Regions from separate parts of the Homo sapiens genome. Here region 1 is linked to region 2. Evidence: fine-mapped expression QTL. A gene starts in region 2. The other region holds a variant in brackets. All regions are shown on one strand. Distances are from middle to middle.

Region 1 (4,401 bases), 140 kb before region 2:
AGTGAGACTCCATCTCAAGAAAAAAAAAAAAAAAGAAAGAAAGAAATTATTTTTTCTCTAACCCCTATCTGCTCCATCAAAATTTACTGGTTCTCTGTACCTTCACCTTATAGACTGTAACAGGTGACCGTATCAAATCTGCTAATCATTTCCAGATATAAATAAAGTTTCTAACTGTTATCCCTCCCACATTTGTAGCATGTCTGTGTGGTAACACAAGAAACAATATATTAACCCATTATTCTCCAAAATATGGTTTTTATTCCACAGATGGGTTGCAAAATGACTTTACCTGAAATGCAAAAGAATTTTTTAATAGTTTTCATTGTTTTAATGTACATCAGGAAAAAGTTAAGTGAGAATATCAAACCTGTGGTTTCATGGATATTGCTATTTGGAATGAGGCTAAATTCAAAGGTGATTCCAATTAAAGAAAAATATATGGATAATAATTTAAGTAAATGGCAAAATTGGAAAGGTGGGGCATAACACAATCAGAAGGGGGCTGAGATTTATGAAAATAGGAGTGACTCCATTGGCAGAAATGGCCAATGAGAATGCTATTCTAAAGAAACACAGGATTTGCAGTGCCTTCATATTCCACCATGGGCCTAGCCTGATTCCATCCTTAATGTTCTCTTCTCTCTCTAGCTCTGCAACCCTAAGGGGCAGCCACTCTGCCTCACACTGAATGATGATGTATACTGAGAATTTCTTCCTTCCCCGTTCACCAACTCAGCTTCCCCTGAAACGACTCAATCTAGTGAGGATGGTGGCAAAGATGGGCTGACAGTTAAATATCTTTGGAACTTGGGTTCTGAGCGTGCTGAGTTTGTGTCTTGCAAGTTGATATTGTGACAAAATAAAGGTGGAAAGAGAAACCATGCTGGTGGTCATTACCTGTCCTGTCTAATCTCCTAGAATTCTAGTGCAAAGTTTTGGAGAAAACCGAAAAATAAGAGTTGGGTTTTATTCCAGTTTTTTTTTTCTATCTATCATATTCTAACACATGCAACAAAAACCACATGCCATTTGACTTTTATTTTTGGACTTGAGTTTTTTGCCTCTACCTTGGAACATTATTTTGTAAAAGGTCATGAATGTTAAAGTAGGACTTAAGAGGCTTCACTTGGACAACTGACATTTGAAATACTCTCAATCAGGGACTTTCTCATCAGGGAAGCTAAATCTATCCATAGACCTCAAATCCCATGGATTTCAAGCTGGATGCAGTACTAGACATTTGCCTGCCTGCCAAGCATCTCCCGAGAAAGCGTCCTAGCCAAAACCCTTGATTGCAGGTGACAGAAACCCAACACAACTGGCATAGGCAAAAAGGGACAGCTATCTGCTCACATAACTGAGAAGTTCCAGAAGTGTGGTTGGATATTAGTACTCAGGGAAGGAATGTATGTGTATGTATAATTTCCCCATCTCTTGGCTTTTTTTTTTCTTTTTTTATTGTTGGCCTCATTCTCTTATCAAGAAGAGGCTACATCCAAAAAGCAGAGGAAATGTTATTCAATAATCCCAAGCTATTCCCTTCCAGCCACGTGACCCTAAAGGCAACAAGAATTCTCCTCTGACTTCAGTTTTTTAAAAATCTAGCCCAGCTTGTTTCACAAGTCTATGTCCATGCCCAGGTTGGGCAAGGGGGGGCGGTGGTGAATGGCAGCCCCACTATCATTACATGGTTATAAATTCCTAGAAAAGAAGGAACGTTGGACAATGCTCACTAGTGTCCATTGCGGAAAACTGCCCTACCCACTGCCCTGACTGAACAACTAACCATGTTCCGTATTACCCAACCCACGTGGCAACAGCTAAATAAATTATGTTTGAGGTCCTAAGCCAGGTACAATTCATCTATCCAGTTCCTCTGATTTGTGTGACCTGGCTGGAAAAGTGGCATGAGCCAAACAGACTTTTCTTCCTGGAATTTGAAAATGGGGGCCCTAGAGACTGAGTCATTTGGTTGGGGCAGTTGAACTAAATGTCATAATAAAGTAGAAGACATGACAGACAATTATGGACGATGTGCAATTGAAGCTATGAAGAAGCCAGTCTACAGAGTTGGAGATCTGAGACCACAGCAACTCTAAAAGAGATATTCAGGAAGTAGCTGACTCGGTTTACTGGGAGCTTCAGTGCTTGAAAATTTTGTGTTTGAGTAGAATATCTAGGTAAGAAAAGGCTAACATATTTAGTGATTTTACCCACATT[G/A]TCTTATTTTCTCTTTGTAGTAACTCCATTAGAAGTTATTTATTTTCTCCATTTTTACCAATGAATAAACTGAGGCTCAGAGAACATATGTGATGTTTCTTAGTGTGACTTGTTTCAAGCTAGAAAGTCTCTAAGTCAAGAATGCTTTTCCCCTACTCCAAGTTGCCTCAGAATCTTGAGTGGTAGAGATCTGGGCTGGAGACGTGGATTTGGAAATCATCTGCTTAGATGCTTAGAGGTACTCATTGCAGCCACAGAGGGGAATGAGGCTGTCAAGTGAAAGTACACAGTTAGGGAATTACTGTGATAGCCTCATCTATTGGGCACTCACTCTGTGCAAGGCTCTACACATTATATACTAGTAATGACTAATTGTATGTGTTGAATTAACTGGGCCACAGCATGCCCAGATATCTGGTTAAACATAATGTCTGGGTATGTCTGTGAAGGTATTTCTGAAAGAGATTGATATCTGAATAGGTAAACTAAGTAAAAAACAGACGGCCCTCCCCAACGAGAGAGGGCATTACCCAATTCATTGAGTCCCTGAATAGAACAAAAAGGCAGAAAAAGTTTGAATTCACTCTCTGGCTGACTGTTTGAGCTGGGACATCGATATTCTCCTGCCTTCAGCACTCCTGGTTCTCAGGTTTTTAGATTTGGATTGGAATCTACACCATCAGCTATAGAGCTCTCAGTGTTTTGAGCTACACCCCTGGCTTTCCTGAGTCTCCAGCTTGCAGATGGCAGATCATGGAGTCTCAGCTTCTGTAATTGCATGAGCCAATTACCTTAAAAAAATCTCAGGTTTGTTATATATATAAATAATGTATATTTATATATAATATATATTTATAATGTATATATAATATATATTTATAATGTATATTTATATAATATATATTTATAAATAATGTATATTTATATATAATGTATATTTATATTTACTTTTATATAATTTGTATTTAAATTTATTTTTGTATAATTTATATTTATTTATACAAGCTATACTTATAATTTATATATATAATTTATATTCATATTTATTTCTATATATATCCTATTGGTTCTGTTTCTCTGAAGAACGCTGACTACTATAGTATTCTATCAACAGAAGCAAGATTGAGGTAGAGTTTACAGAGGTTCACAGTGACCATGCTTCTAGGTGTCATGAGATGGAAGGAACCTCAAGCAGTTTCTGTTCTAGGATTTGGTCATTTTCCTGCCATGCTCATGTTCCATTACCCTCGTAGTATGCCTGGTCTGAAAAATTCAATCTGCCTTAACCATTTGAATCTCTAAACAAACCTTGCAAATTAATACAAGTCTCAAGGACCAGGCTGAAGAGAACGAGACGGGACCTGGAGAATATAAAAAAGCGGGTATCAGCTGGGCGCCATAGCTCATGCCTGTATTCTCAACATTTTGGGAGGCCAAGGCAAGAGGATCGCTTGAGGCCAGTAATTGGGAAGACCAGCCTGGGAAAAATAATGAGACCCTGTCTTAACAAGAAATTTAAAAATTAGCCGGGCGTCATGGCAGGCACCTGTAGTTCCAGCTACTCAGGAGGCTAAAGCAGGAGGGTAAGTTTAGCCCAGGAGTTTGAGGCTGCCGTGAGCTATGATTGGGCAACTGTAGTCTAGCCTGGATGACAGAGTGAGACCTTATCTCTTTAAAAAAAAAAAAAAAGTGGGTATCAGGTTGAATATGGCGACACCCCAAAGTGACACTCCCACCCAGTCTTGATAAACAAGGTTCCAAATTGAGTTAATTTTGCCCCTAGCAAATTCAAAACATTCTAACATTTTCATAAGATTCTTAACAAAAACAAAAAAGTAATGTGTGATTCATTATGTCAGCATTTTATTTTTTAAGGTTATTAGAACACACTGACATACATTTTAAATAATAAATAAATGCACTGAGATGATTTTTTAAATACTCCCTTGTACTTCCTTTTACTCCATGCCCCTTCTTTCCTTCTTGCACTCAACAAATTGCAGCAGCTAAACAGTATGCTTACAGCCCTAGGGAAAAAAATACCAAAGCAAAACTCTGAGAACAAAGAGACAAAGCCATGGCTTATGAGTTTCAAAATAGGCTGCTGAAACCCACACCAGAGATAATAGTTTTGAAAGGGTTTCTGAGCCCCAGAAGCCAGGCTTTTGAATATCAAAA
Region 2 (4,401 bases):
TCTATTTTTATTTCACCCAATGGATGAAATAAATCAGTCTACATGTTTTTGGTTTCCTAAAGCAATCCAAGGTTCAACTTAGGATATTGGTCTATTATGTGAGAAATTGACTTCTCTACATTTGGTATTTACAAAAAAAACACTGCAAGCTTCCTCAATCTGTTGTTTCATCACACTTGCATTAGGAAATATGAGATACAACAGAGAAAAAAAGTCACACTTTCAGAATTCTGATGCTTATATGTCTGATGCAAATTTAATATTTATGTGTCCTTTCCAAAGGTGTAATCTAAAAATCACTTTGATGAGAGGAATTTTCACACACTTTTCTCAGAAATAAGGTTATTTTTTCTTTTTCTTTTTCTTTTTTTGTGACAGAGTCTCACTGTGTTGCCCAGGCTGGAGTGCAGTGGTGTGACTGCAGCTCACTGCAGCCTTGCCCTCCTGGGCTCAAGTGATTCTCCTGCCTCAGCCTCCCAAGTAGCTGTGCCTACAGGTACATGCCACCATACCCAGCCAATTTTTGTATTTTTAGTAGAGACGGGTTTCGCCATGTTGCACAGGCTGGTCTGAAACTCCTGAGCTCAAGTAATCCGTCCACCTCGGCCTCCCAAAGTGCTGGGATTACAGGCATGAGCCACCGAACCTGGCAGAGGTCTTAATTTTTTAAAGAATCTCTTAATGCTGTGGGACGGCTTTTCTTGCCACTAAACACAAAGTTTCAGATTACAATTACGCCACAGATAGACATCTACAAACCTTTTAGAACATACAACAGAATAAGGTGGGACTCCTCTACAAAATTCATCTATTTTATACTTAGTTAAGATTCACGTTTGGTTGTGATTATTTTTAATTTTCTAATTTCCTATAACTCCACAGTTTCTACCGTCAAATATATTAGTAATATCCAATTTTTACAAAAGGGACCAAGAAGTATTGCCTAGCAATAAAAACCATACGTTTTGATGTCAGAGTTGTGTTGGGTTCCACAATTAACAGCACTGTGACCTTGAGCAGATTACTTAATAGACATAAACCTCATCTGCAGGCCGTTCATAGCTACTTCTTTCAGCCATGAGGATATAGATAATCACACAGAAGACTCAGTACAGTACGTGGGATATGGTAAGCAATGTTTAATTGTGATTTCATGTAAAAGTGGGAGGGAAATAAAAGGCAGGAAAGAATGTGAAATTAAGTTTGTCATCCCGGTCCTCTTGCAGCTGAAATTCAACTGAGGGACACACATAAAGATCAAAGCACTGCTACTGGGAATCGGCACGGAAATTTACAAACTCACCATAACCAATGCAAGAGTATTTTTTCCCTGCCCAGGCAGGGAGGGGAGTAAATTATGTGGCGCTGGCCAGGTTAGAAAACACTTCGATTAAATCTGTCTCACCAGCATAGAATTAAGCATCTGATAAGAAATAGGGTGTGTAGTAAAAGGGATAAATAGGCTGTTTGAAGTCAACAACCTCTTTCCAGATCTTTTAAGAGCCAATTATTCTGCCAAAATGACTGGAGTGCTTAGTACAATACCTGACATGTAGAGTTATCATTAAAAGTTTGCAATTAGTACTACTGTCTCAGTGTTTGCAAAAGGCCACAAAACGGTCTTGTGTCCTTTTCCTGTGTGTTTAAGGTAGATTGCCTTTTCACAGGGTCACTGCTCTGACAATTTGGGATGGAGGAAGAGGAGTGCACAAGGGTCCTTCCTCAAGACCTTTACGTCAAGCACCCCGGAGGGCCCCTGCAGGAGCTGGGGCAGTACAGCCTGGCCCCGACGCCCGCACCGGGCAGATACCGGGAGCGGCCCGCCAGGCCCCCGGGGCTGCGGGGCGGGGATCAGGGGATGAGGCAGCGCGGCCTGCGCTCCGGGTGTCCCCCTCCCAGCCCCCCGGGCCCGCTGCGGCTGGTCCCCTAGGCCTGGGGTGGGGGGAGGCGGGGGTCCCCGGAGAGGGCCCCGGCCTCCCGGCAGCACTAACTTCTCAGCCAGCAGCTCCTCTATTCTCCTTCTTTTCTTCTCCCTAAAAGAGAGAATAAAAGAAGGGTCAGCATCGCGCTACACACTGGGCGCCGCGAGGGGAGGGGGGCGAGGGGACGGGGCGGGGGGTGTGGGGACCCCGGGTGGCGGCGGCAACCGCCCACCGCCGCGCTCTCTCACAACCCAGCCCAGCCCGGCGCGTCTGCAGAGCCCCGGTACTTACGGCTCCTCGCCATCCGCCATATTGTTCTCCGCCTCTTCCCAGGTGCCCACGCGCGGCAGGGCGGGGAGGAGCGGGACTGGCAAAGCGGGGAGGGGCGGGGCTGGCGAAGCGGGGAGGGGCGAGGCCAGAAACACAACCGGCAGGGAGGTGCGAGGTTGACTGCGGCTGGGCTCCCATGGGCTTTAAAGTCTTGCCCTGTAATTATAATCTTAATTACCTACGCTTAATTAGGTGAATCTTATACCGTGCATAATGTTGCTCTGCAGCGTGAAAATGTAGACAATACATTATGCGTTTACACAAACTATATGTTAATACGTAATTATACAAAATATTGGTATATTCTATGAAAAATTCGTGAAGAACCCTCCCAGTATGCCAGAGCTTTCCTCTGGGGGCAAAGATCAAGGAAATTTTCACTTTCTGCTTTTCAGGATGGTTCCAAAGTCTTTGCCTTTATAAGTACTCACTTGAATAATAAATTTATCTAAATCCGTTTACATTGGTGGGGTGGGAGATTATTATTTTCTTTGAACAAATCAGCATTAATATTTTCATGTCACATTCTGTTAGATAAGTTCAGCGGAAACAAAATGATTAAAACTTTTCCTGAGATAAATGTGTATATTTAGATACAAAGAAAAAAGTATAAAGGAAAACAATCACAAAAATCAAAGAATAACTGAGAACACCCATAATCCTATCACCTAAAGATAAATTGTGATAAAAGTTTCAATTATTTTCTTCTAGAGTCAGAAATACAAATATACACTGTGAATCTGGATGGCTGGATAGAGGGAAATGATCATGTTCAAAAATGTATGTATATACACGTACACACACATCTCCTTCTATGGAGTGGGACAAGAATGATATTTGGAATCAAAAGTAACTGATTTTAAATTCTTCTCAGTTGTGAGCTACGAAACCCTTAGACACTTCTATTTCTTCATTTATAAAGTGGGCATAACACTATTCACCTTGTAAGACTGATAATTAAGTAAAATCCAGAGTGGCTCTCAAAATACAGTTCCTGATCAACATCACTTGGGAAGTTTTTTTTAACACAAATTTTCACCCCTCACCGCCCCCACCACGCTCCCCACCGCCCCCCCGCCACCCCACCCTTCAGCCTTCTGCAAAGCCTGGGGTGATTCTCCACTGGTAAAGTTTGAGGGCCACTGAAATGGAGTACATAAAGCCTGATGGGTACTCAGTAAATGTAGCTGCTGTTACTACACTGTGATATTTAACCTCCTCTTGTCCTAGTTTTCAGTGAACCTTAAGGAAAGCTTGTCCTTTATGGTCCCCCAATTAGGTTCAGTTCAATAGCATTCACTGAGCTGAAAGTCAATGCCAGGCAGTGAGCGTGGGAATAGAGTTCACAGTCCCTATCAAGAGATACCAGCCTCCTTCTGCATCACATGTCTCAGCGTCAACTATGAAACTACTTTTTCTTGCCCAGACAACTCCACAGATGGTTTCACTGAGGATTTAACCTCAGTGCTTATCAAAATGGGCTCCTGTAGCCTGAACCCCCAACAATACTGGATACCCTTTGATTAGTGGTAGTGAGCATTGCAACCCTCTCAGATAGTGAAAAGCAGCAGTCACCTTAAAGGCCACCTAGTCCAGTCTCACCCATTTCACAGGGGAGGAAACTGAGGCCTAGGGATAGAGTACAGCTAGCCGATGAAGAAGTCTGCAAAGGTATCTGGCCCTGCATCTGCTTGCTTTGAGACTAACAGCCTGACTCACCATGGTGGTATTTTGATAAACGACACCAGGCACTCTCACTGGCTTAGATTGATTGACGGATTAGAAATAGCCATCTGCCCTTGCCAGGAATGAAAGCAACAGAGACATGCAAGCAAAACCTTCAACAGATTTATTTTACTTCAAATGGAACATATCATAAACAATTAGACTATCTGCTATGGTTTTTAAACAGACAGATAGTCTGAATGGTCCTATCTAGACACACCAGTCCCATTATAAAAGCCCCATCAAGCAGGGCTCGGCTTCCCACACCTGTAGTCCCGGCTACTTGGGAGGCTGAGGTGGGAGGACTGTTTGAGCCCAGGAGTTTAAAACCAGCCTGGGCAACATAGTGAGACCCTGTCTCTAAAAATAATAATAAATTAAAGCTCCAGAAAGACCTCTACAGTGAATCTGACCCCTCCCTCCC

What was found. PIP is the estimated chance that this variant, and not a neighbour inherited with it, causes the effect. A credible set is the group of variants that fine-mapping cannot tell apart.
Region 1: its variant is the best candidate, but not a certain one, in a credible set for the expression of UBA3 in whole blood (INTERVAL, PIP 0.89).

The regions. Positions count from the first base shown.
Region 1 is chr3:68,939,528-68,943,928 of GRCh38, forward strand. No RefSeq gene overlaps it. Among named protein-coding and RNA genes, the nearest start is that of TAFA4, 9.2 kb to the left of the region's middle. The variant G/A (reference allele first, on the strand shown) is at 2,224.
Region 2 is chr3:69,078,121-69,082,521 of GRCh38, forward strand. It overlaps UBA3 (ubiquitin like modifier activating enzyme 3), which reads right to left and starts at 2,245. Exons shown (of 18, transcript NM_003968.4): 1 at 2,214-2,245; 2 at 1,992-2,033. The coding sequence starts at 2,233. RefSeq lists silencers at 1,724-1,953, 2,074-2,163, 2,284-2,353 and an enhancer at 3,957-4,016.